2 separate regions of the Homo sapiens genome follow, and region 2 is linked to region 1. Evidence: fine-mapped expression QTL. A gene starts in region 1. The other region holds a variant in brackets. All regions are shown on one strand. Distances are between the middles of the regions.

Evidence for each region. PIP is the estimated chance that this variant, and not a neighbour inherited with it, causes the effect. A credible set is the group of variants that fine-mapping cannot tell apart.
Region 2: its variant is the best candidate, but not a certain one, in a credible set for the expression of PLCB3 in tibial artery (GTEx, PIP 0.70).

What each region holds. Positions count from the first base shown.
Region 1 is chr11:64,248,450-64,253,809 of GRCh38, reverse strand. It overlaps PLCB3 (phospholipase C beta 3), which reads right to left and starts at 2,280. Exons shown (of 31, transcript NM_000932.5): 1 at 2,062-2,280. The coding sequence starts at 2,160. RefSeq lists silencers at 1,298-1,511, 1,999-2,468 and enhancers at 901-1,547, 1,548-2,193, 3,488-4,135, 4,136-4,781, 4,782-5,360.
Region 2 is chr11:64,127,794-64,133,153 of GRCh38, reverse strand. The region is part of intron 3 of MACROD1 (mono-ADP ribosylhydrolase 1); the gene reads left to right. Among named protein-coding and RNA genes, the nearest start is that of MACROD1, 36 kb to the left of the region's middle. RefSeq lists an enhancer at 3,084-3,677. The variant G/C (reference allele first, on the strand shown) is at 3,280.

The DNA.
Region 1 (5,360 bases):
AGAAGGGGACTTGCCCTACTCTCAGGACTGGGCAGTGAGCTCTTCCTCCCTCAAACAGCCGTGCAGCTGGCAGGGGGCAGGGAAGTGCATGCCAGCCCCATTTTCTAAGAAGGGCCCGGTCCCTGGCACACTACCAGGGCCACCCTGTGTGACTCAGGACCAGCAGCCAGAGGGGCTGTCCTCCAGGGCTTAGACTCGGCCAGGGCCAGAGTGAACAAGTGGCTACAGGTAGAACCCTCCTATTCCAGGTTCTTCCAGACAGAAAAGGACCCCACCTCATGTTGGGTGCCACCCCCAAAATGCATCTCAGTGTCTGGTGGACAATACTATTATTATCAATACATCTCATATACGCACACCGCCCCTACTGCGCACCAGGTACAGTTCTATGCACCTAGCATCTTCGAGCACACAAAGGCCTCCTAACCAGCCTAAGAGGCATGTGCTGTTGTCACTCCCATTTTACAGATGAGGACACTGAGTTACAGGGACACTTCGTAGCCTGCCCGAGATCACTGGAGCCAGGACCTGCTTGCAGGCAGTGTGGTTGCAGCGTCCTGTGACCTGGGAAGCAGGGAGCGGAGACTTCTGCCAGGCTCCCGGCTCCTGGCCTCAGCCACACCCCATTGTGGGGCCTGGGATAACTCTCTGCTTTCCAGACCTCAGTTTCCTCTTCTGGAGAATGGGGATTGCACCAGCCCCACCCATGGCAGGCTTTGCTTACAAAAGATGGGCGTTCATCTGGGAACAGAAGGCCCCCAAAATTTGGGGATGCATGGGCCTCCCCACTTCAGTGTGCTGACACCCAGCCCCAGCACTTCTCCGGATTCCCAACCCTACCCTGGGCCTGAGGCCCCCGAATGGTGTGCAGAGCGGGGAGTCTATGGGTACTGCCCCTAGTGTTTCCCTCCCACCTCTCCCCAGGGGTCTGGACCTCAAAGGCAGCCCAGGTCCCCTGCTCTCCTGCCCCAAGCCTCCGTCAGCACCCCCCACCCCACCCCCAGGGCCCTCTCCCTGTTCCCACTTCCTTATTTGGGTTTATCACAGTGGAATGAAAAGAAGAAACTTTTCCCTTCAGGCCAGCCTGGGGGGAGGGGTCTCCCCCGGCCCCTGGGGCCCCCAGGCACCCCACCTCGCACACCTGCCGCTTCAGGCCACGCCCCCATCTCCTCCCCCCAGCTCCCACGCCTACCCCGGGGCCCCACCCAGCCGGAAAAGAGCCCAGAGTCTTCCAGGCCCGTGGCCTGACTGGGAAGGAGCTGCGAGGAAGCTCAGGCCGGCCGGGTGGAGGCCCTAGGGAAGGAAGGGCCCAGGGGGCAGAAGAGGATGCACCCAGGATGGGGATGGGCAGCCGAAGGTGGGGACACAGGCATTTGGGAAGCACCAGGGGCAGGACAGGGAAAGGGGGGCCAGGATGTATTGGGGTTCAAGGTCCCAAGCCTAAGGAGTGGGGAGCAAAGTTCCCAGGGGTGGAGGAACTTGGGGGGCAAAGTCTCCACTAGGGGGTGACTGGGTGCTCCCATCTGAACAGGGAGCTGGGCTGGGATCCAGAAGCAGGGCGAAGGGGTGCCAACCAGAACAGGGGGAAAAATGATGAATGGACGAGGACTGTTCAGGCAGGGCACCGGGGAGAGTAGGGGCGCCCTGGCACACACCCAGAATGAGGATGCCCCCAGCCAGCCTGGAAGTCAGGGTCCTGCAGCCGGGGAGTCTAGTGCTGGGCAGGGGTCTGGGCACCAGGCCAGGATCGGGGAACGAGAATTAGTCTGGCAGGGAGCGGTGGGAAGAACGAATGGAAAACGGGGGGACGGGGTTTATTGGGGTTCAAAGTCTCTGCGCCAAGGAGTGGAGGCAAATTTTCCAGAGCTGAGGGACTGGGAGTTGGGGGGACAAAGTCTTCATTACGGAGACGATCGGGGACTTAAGTTTCCGGGGCGCCGCCAGACTGGGATGAGGGTGGCGCCACGGGCAGGCGAGGCTGGGGTGGGGGTCCCCAGCGTCTGGTCGAGCTTGACTGAAAGAGTCCCGGGATTTGGGCGGAGCAGGGGCCCGCGCGCTTACCTCGTCCCATTTGATGAACTTACTCCCGCGCCGCAGGGTCTCCACCACGGTGGGCGGCTCCAACTGCAGCGCGTGGACGCCGGGCTGGGCGCCCGCCATGGCCCGGCCAGGGGCGGGTCGGGGACCCACGGAGCCCTGACGGGGACCGACGGCGCCGCTGCTCCCACCGCGCGGCCCGCTCCGGCCCCGCGGCGTCAGTGCCCGCCCGCCCGCCAGTCTGTCCCGGACCGACCAGAGCCTCGGCGGGGCCCGGGCGGGGCGGGGACGGGGCGGGGCCTCCCGGGCCCCGCCCCCTCCCACCGCGTCGGCTCCCCCTGGCGGCCGGGGCGGCGACTGCAGCCGGAGCGGGGATTGGGGCAGGGGCACGCGGACGGGTCGGGGGCTTTGCTGCGGGGCTCAGCAGAACCTGATTCTTCAGGCCTGTGGTGGAAGGAGGGCGCTGGGGGCCGAAGTGGCTGTTGGGGAGCAGCTGGAGGGACTGGGTGTAGAGGGCGCTGCTTAAGGCGGTCCGGGATCAGCCCACTGAGGTTTCCGAGCGACTAGGGCTGCAGTACCAGCGGAGGGCTAGACTTGGGCCGGGGGGTCGCTGCACAGCCCTGTCGCCCACCCTCTTCTGCCGCACTTAGCTGAATGCAGGAAAAGCTTCTTCCGCCCCCCTCTGCCCTGGCTTCGCCTCACCCACTCTTATGCCGCGCGGTCCCCCCTCCCTGGGAGCACTTAGCCGGCTAATGGACCTCCCGCCGGCAGGCACCCCTCCCCCGTCCCTAGCCCAGGGAGGCCGGGCGCCTGCCACCTCCTTTAAGGACCCAAGCATCCTGGTCTTCGAGAGTGAGCCCTAGAACAGCCCCCTTCTTGTTGCTGCAGACTCCCATGACTGGAACCTGACTGTGAGCCTCTTGGCTGGGAACCGCGGGGGGAACGCTGTTGTCTGCCCAGAGGGGTCAGAAGCTTTGTGGATGTCCCCAGACAGGAGGGTTGAGGAGGGGCTCTGCAGTGCCTGGCCCACAGCAGGTGCCCTGAAATCTGCGTTCCAGAGATGGGAGCGGGGAAGGCGCATGGGCAATGGGATGGGTGGGGGCTGCAGCCCCTCCCGCAGGGCTTAGCTGGTGGGGGGGGTTCCTGCCTGGGGGCCCCTGTGGGAGCCCCCCCAATACAGAGGCAGTAACAGCAGCAGGTTTAAAGTAGAACTCATCCAGAGGGGCCAGCCAAGTCACCTAGAAACCCAGAAAGAGATGCAGCTGGCTCTGGGGGAGGAGGGGTCAGCAAAGGAGGAGCTCCCCTGCAGGCCCCTTTGCCCCAGGCTCTGAGACCTCCACAAGGAGCCCTGCCTGGCCCTGGCCTTCCTCCACACCCCGCCAAGTTCTCCATCAACTCTAACCTGGCGGATCTCCTCGCTCTCAGCCCTGGCCCTGTGGGGTGTGATTATGATCTCCACTTGAGGCCCAGAGAGGGGAAGGGACTTGCCCAAGGTCACACAGCTTCTTAGGAGGATTTCAACCCTCCGACTTCCTGAGGCCCAGGAGCCTCTAGACCTCATTGGGAAAACAGAACCATGCAAGGTGGAGCTTGGCCTCTGCCCTCACAGGCTGGAGTTCAAATCCGGCTCTTGCTAGCAGCCTCTTGCTAGTGGCAGAACCTAGTCTCTCTAGGTGCCTCAGTCACCTTGTCCAGAACCTAAAGGTTGTTGTATACATAAGCAAATGGGTGGGAGATGCCAAATTGACATGAGTAGCTGGAAGCTGTGGGTATACCAGGGAGGGAGGAAAGGGCATAGGTCAGCTCTGGGGCAGTGGAACCTCCAGCTTGTGCCAGGGCTAGCAAAGCCTGGAGCCAAGGCCTGAGCTTAGGGGATCTGAGCTGTGGGCCCTAGGCCTTGTGCAAGCGTACTTTAGAGAAGCATTGGGCAGCAGCTCCTTGTGGAAAAAAACAGGATGGGCACCTGTTTCCTGGGCTTAAGCCTCTCTCCTCCCCCAACCCTGTGTCTCTGGAGGCCAGGGCAGCCCCCATTACAGGGCTCCTTCCTTCCCAGACACTTTCTTCCATCCTTGGTAATGGTAATAGGGTATCTCAGCAGGCAGTAATGGTGAAGGCAGGCAGCCTTTCCGGACTCTACCCTTGATTGAAGGAGCGGTCTTGACCCACAGGACCCTCCCCAGAGCCTCTGCTTCAAGGATGCACTCTAATGGAGGGGGGCTGGGGCCCTGGAAGGGGTAGGGCTGGGGAGGCCACAGACTGAGGCTAGAAGGAGGAGGAGCAGTGGTACACTCCAGTCCCAGTAGGGCTCAGGCAGGAGGGCCAGGGCTGGGCATGGGCCCCCAACCACAGGAGGTCAGGACCATAAGCCCCCTGAAGAGGCTCTGAGCAGGTAAGTGACTTGCATACAGCCTCTCAGCCCATGGGGCAGAGCCAGGATTTGAACCCAGTATTTCTACTCCAAGGCTAAGGTTCTGTGGCCCAGCTTCCAAGAAGGTGGCAGGCCAGCATGCCCACCTGCACCAAGTGGTCTCGGGTGGATAGCCATGGGAACTGGACAGGAATCTGGGTGTGCCTGGGCATGGCGCGGTGGGGGGAAGAGGGAGAGTCAGAAAGAATGCCTGACCTGTGGACACGGACATGGCTGGAGACCTTCACACCAACCCTGAGGGAGGACAGACAGAAAGGTCAGGGCTCAGGGTCACAGCATCTTGGGGGCAGAGCTAGGGCTGGGGGTCTTCATGGCCTGCAGGCCCCACTTCCACAGAAGCTGTTGGGCATTAGGGGCTGTTTGAGGGTCTTCCCCCTTTAATCTGTGTGCACCCTCAAGGTACAAACAATGCTTGGGTTCAGAGGGAGCTGGCCTGGCCTGGTGGGGTGTGGTGGGGAATTTGGACTGGGGTAAAGTGATCCTCCTATCAGGCCAGGCTTAGGGCAGGAGGCCAGGCCACGGATAGGGCTCCCGGTGGAGAGGGTGGATCCTACCTAATCCGCAAGAGCGAGGGTCAGCCCTTCCTCGGCACCCAGACTGGCTGAAGGGAGGCTGAGGCCGGAGGAGGGGCACGGGAAGGGGAGGGGTCAGCTCACTCTACCCTTCCCTGAACTGAGCCCTGTGAGCCCATTGCCTTCACAATGCCCAGCCTCTGTCTTCTCTTGGTCTCTTCTCTCTGACTATAGGGCAAAGGAGGAGCCCAACATCCTGGGTTGGAGTTTGGATGCAGCCCCAGCTGTGTGACCCCGGGGCCAATCCCAATCCATCTCTGAACCCCACCCGCTGCAGAGGGCTTCCCCCCACAACATCCAAAGAGTGTCTTTGAGGGGCTGGA
Region 2 (5,360 bases), 120 kb after region 1:
GCAGGAATCCAAGGCGCTGGGGGCTGCTCAGGGACGGCTTCCTGTGGGAGGTCTTCCTGGGGAGGTCTAGTTCCCCACAGGGCGCTCTGGCTGGGGCTCATGGGTGTGCATTTCCCTCCAGCTCACTGACCCTCAGCCTGGTCTCTTCATGAGGCCTCATGGGGCCAGGACTCGGGGCAGTGGGGGGAACCCGGACAGACCTGGTTCCAGAGCTAACTCCGTCACCATTGCCTTGGGCAAGCTGCTTAGATCTGGGCCTTGGTTTGCTGGTTTTAAAATGGGAGTAAGCCAGCCTGCCGCACCTCCCTGCCGTGAGGATGAAGCTCGGTGACAGATGCCTGGCGCCTGGCACCACTGGCCCCCGCTGCCTTGCCTCTCGCAGATGGGCGCCCCTTCAGGAAATCCCCCCTAATTATGAAGTTACAGATCTGGATGGTCACATGGGGAAGAGCCACATTCATTAGGAGACCCGGGCACACAGCCTGGACTGTGCCAAGCATCTCTCTGTGCCAGCTTCCTGAGGACCGCGGGCTCAATAGAGCACATCCCTGCATCTTCCTGGTGGCAGATTCCATCTGCCAGACCCCGAGGAGCCGCTGACTGGGGAGGGCCTGCTCAGGACCCGCCCGTCCCTGGCAACTGCCCTGAAGCCCTTCACCCTGGGTTTGTAATCTCTGCTTTAAAGAGGACTTCAATCCCTTTCCCCTCCCCCCGCCCCACCCCCAGTGACCAATCCATCCGCCAGGGCCCTGATCCAGGAGAAAGCTAATTAAAGAATTTCTGCTCTTGGCTCAGCCTGGACATAGAAGATTCCCCTTGGTCTTCCTGGAATATCTGAAAACAGGTGGAGAAAGGCATCAGATAAGCCCCGGGAGCCTCCATAATAGGCTTAATCCCCCCAAAGCCAGCAGGCATCAAACAGCTCTCCTCCCGGGACCACTGAGAAAGGGCTCGAGAGCTTGGAGGACGTGGGGCTGTTCCTAACCACATCCCAGACTGTAGGTCCCCTTGTCCCCAGCTCCCCATGAATAGGAGACTGTGTTCCTCATGAGTTCAGACGGAGTATCAGCCATTTCTGCATAGTTCTCCAGAGCAGGGGAAGGTGCAGAGACCTGGCCCCAGCAGCTCCGGCATGGGGAGGCCCCACTTCCAGGGCTGCCAGCAGTCACTGTGATGACTGGCATGTAGCAGATGCTCAGTCAAGTGCGCCCCTCCCTCCCGCCACTCACTTCCCTCCGGTTCCCCCTGCCCCCCTCCTCAGCTTCTTTTCTTTCAAGGGCCTGTTTGCCTGTAGGAGATTTTCATCAACCAACCACAAATATTTACTCAACACTTACCGGCAGGCAGCACGTGAGCTCCACAGGGCAGGGGGCTCTCGGTCCCATTTGCTGCATGTTCCCCATCTGAACAGGGCCTGGCATGCAGTAGGTGCTCAATAAAGGCTTGGTTGGTAGTCACAGCCTGAAACAGGGTAGTCTCTGCTCCCAGAGAGCTTACATTCCTGCTGCCTTCAGAAAACATCCTGAGGGGCTGGGCGCGGTGGCTCACTCCTGTAATCCCAGCACTTTGGGAGGCCGATGCGGGTGGATCATTGAAGTTGGGAGTTCAAGACCAGCCTGGCCAACATGGAGAAACCCCATCTCTAGTAAAAATACAAAAATTAGCTGGGCGTGGTAGCACACGCCTGTACACGCAGCTACTTGGGAGGCTGAGGCAGGAGAATCGCTTGAACCTGGGAGGCGGAAGCTGCCGAGATCACCTCACTGTACACCAGCCTGGGTGACAGAGCGAGACTCCATCAAAAAAAAGAAAACGTCCCGAGGGTCTTTGAGGGATCATGGAGCCCCCACACGTGGGTGGGGTGAGGGTCTTAAAGCCTGCCCTCCCCGTCACTCTGAGCTATGGCCAAGCTGGGTGTAACCCTGGAGAGAGTCAGGGTGTCCTCACCCGCTTCAGGCAGCTGGCCCCCATTTCCCTCTGCAGTGCCTGGGGCGGGGGTGACAGGGAGCATTTAGACCCGCAGCTCCCTGCACAGGGACCTCCTGGGGCACTCGCCTGCATCACAAGAATAAAAATGATAAAAACCTGCCACTGAATTCTGGGTGGCAGTAAATTACTTAACACCTGAAACAGGTTGAAATGTGGCCACTGTGGTTTTAATAAGCCCATCTCCGATGCAGTGCTTCCTCGCCGGGCCGGCCAGTTCTCTTCTTGAGGCATAATTTCATCTCGTCCCAGGCTTGGCAGCATTGCAAATAAGATTTCACTTCCCCTGTAAATCTTAGAGGGAGGGAGTGCAGGATTTCATTTGTGCTGTCAGTTAGCACTCCAGAGAGCCTGTTTACTTTGCCGCAGGAGGAGAAGGTCCTCTGGAGGTGCTGGACAGGGTGGCGGGTGGGGAGGTGGCAGTGTCAGCACTGGAAGGTGACGTGGGTGCGGCGGCGGGGAGGCAGCGGCATGTGTGGGGGGGTCCTGGAAGCATGCCTTATTTGGGGTGCCTGAAAGTGGATGAGCCAATGTCAGACCCACGGAGGCAGAATTTCAGGGCCAGCTGGGTGCCCTCCCATGCGTCCGGGACCCTCCTAGGCTGGGTGATAAGACTCAGCCACAGAACTTGGGTGTGGGGGTGTGGCCTGGGGTGTTAGACCCCTCCCAGGTTCCGACGCCTCTTCTTCAGGTTGCTCGGTGAGGCCAGAGACCCCTCCTGGGAAGTAGGGGCAGGAGAAGGGAAGCTTCCAGAACCCAGTGGTAGCCAGGTAAGGGCAGTTTCCAGGTACAGGAAAGCAGCCATGGAGGGGTAGGTATCACCCACTCTCTCTCTCTCATTTGAGCAGGAGCTTTTTAGTCCTGAGTCTGACAAAACAGACGGAGTCAGATACACAAAGCCGGAGCCCCGGGACTTAAGGTGCCTCTTGGCCGCAGGGCAGCCATTCGGGGGTCTTACCCACACGTGCCCCTAATCTCAGTGATAATGCAAGTCCTGAGAGATTTGTGGGGAAGGAAAGGGCCCAAAGTGGCTTGGCTGGAGGGTGGCACGGTGGGGGGCTGCAGCAGTGGTGTGGGGTAGGTTTCTCGGGGGACCACCCCATCTCCTGGCATCCAGCTGAAGACATGGTGTCAGGGCTCTTTGGGGCCAGCAGGTCCCCTGCAGTGCCTTTGAGGCACTGGCCAGTCCTGCTTGCTTTCCTGTAAGAACGGGAGGCTCACGGCCCCCCAACCACCCGGTCCTCTTCAGAACAGGTTATGTTTGGAGGGTTTTCCTTTCATTCCTGAAATGCA[G/C]GTCCTGGCAATTCCCTCCTGTGCGGCCCAAACCTGGCTGAGCCTCCAACTCCCCTGGGGCGCGTATTAAAACCTGAGATGTCCCCCACACCCACCCCCAATCCTGAAGCCTAAGGCTGCAGCCAGCCTGTCATCCTCTTCAGCAGGCCGTGGACCTGGGATTGTTGTGGGGGTGGTTTGGGGAACAGGCCCCACCCTGTACGGTTGCCTCTCTGTGCTGGACCTGGGGGCACTTTGCTGCCTGGGTCCAAAGGTCCTGCCAAGAACCTGGGCCTCCCTGCAAGAAGTGCCAACCAGCTCAGCACCTGGCTCCATCCCTGGGGGCCAGGAATGCGGGAGAAACCCCCCAGGAGGCTGTGCTGGGGGTGGGGGAGGCCTACACTCCCCAGACAAACTGTAGGCAACCCGGCCTCCCACGCCCTCTCACAGAGGCTCCGTCACAGCCGTAGGGTTGGTGCGGGTGGTTTCTGAGCTGGGCACTCCCAGTGGCATTACCTGTGTCGTCCCACCTCACCCTCCCAACAGCAGTCGGGGATGGAGCTGTTATCATGTACGCATGGAGGTGGAAACTGAGGCACAGAGAGGATGAGTAGCACATGTGGTAACTGGCGGAGCCCATGGGTCTAACCCAATACCCAGGGACTCCAAGGCCCTGCCCCAGGAGAGCAGTGGTGTTAATCCAGTGGTTCCCAAAGGCCTGTGACCGGGAACCCTTTCTGGGCAACACCTGTGTTAGCTCCAGGGGCTGAGGAACACAGTTTGAGAACACAGCCCTTCTTCCCTAGCTTCGAGGGCTCCACAGGTGTCCCCAGATTTGTGGCGCTGCCACACGTGGGGAGGGTGAGGTAAAGCCGGGAGCAGGACTTCCTGGGGAAGGGTGGGTTCACTGGGGTTGGCAAGGGCTGTTGTGCTTGGAGAATCATCCTCCTTGTACTCACATGGATCCATGGAGTGATTGGCTGATTGATTTACTGTTTATCGACTCACTCTTCATTCCTGTTTACGGGGCCTCCTGGTGCCAGACAAGTGCCCTCTGGGGATCTGGAGGTGTGGAGGGCAAGAGCTGCCAGTCTGGGCTCAGCCAAGCGAGGCGTGGGAAGGGGTCACCTGTGCAGGTGAGAAAGGCCAGCAGAGGCGTGGGAAACCAGTGCAGCATAGACCTGAAGTCTAAGCCACACTGGGCCTGGGGGGTGTCAGGCGTGGAGGGCAGAGGGTGGGGCTGCACTGAGGCTGGAGTCTGAGGGGGGCAACGGGGAGATGGGGGGACACAGGGCCTTCCTGAGTGGGGCGCAGAAGTGGACCTGCCCTCCTGTCTACCTCAGGCGGGCGGCGTGCCAGGCCTTCCCCATTGCCTCCTAGTCCTCCTTATCCGTGGAAGCGTCCTCTGTGGAAATCTGGTTCCCCACAGAGCCTCCCCAGCCCCACCCAGGCTAGGCCCTGACTCAGCCACGTAGATTCCTCACTCCTCCATGAGGCAGGAATACACCAGCCCCAGAGCATAGCAGGCCCTCAGTCAATATCTCCTGGCTGGCTGGCTGGCTGACTGTGTTCCAGAAAGAGCCCTCGACAGCCCCAGAGAATGGGTCTCAGGTGAGGGAGTGGGCACCCCTCCTGGGCACCCACTGTGCGCTGGGTCTCAGGGAGAAGTTGGAAGAACAGCCTGGGTCCTTTCCTGGGTGGTCACACTGTGTGCCACACCTTAGAGTGGTCTCTCTTGGGCTGCTCCTGCCCTGGCAGGACAGGAGGTGAGGATGGAGGAGGAGGGTGGGGCAGAGAGCACCTGTGGGGCCCACGTCACCCCACTCAGGGCCACCGGCCACTGAGAATTAACTTTGCTTCTTTGGAATATAAGGAAAAACCCGTTAACTGTATCCAGACATGAAATCAGATCTCAGGCAGAAGTAATGAGTTCTTGTTTTATGTTAAATTTAGCAGAGACTGCTATTGTTCTCATGGAAATTTTGTTCCTTCCTGTCCCCCTCCCTTTGGGATGTGAGAGAGGCAGATGAGGCTCCAGAGCTGTGAGTGTAATGGGTACATCTAGGGGATGGGGGGCGTCTGGGGTGGTGGCATAAGCTCAT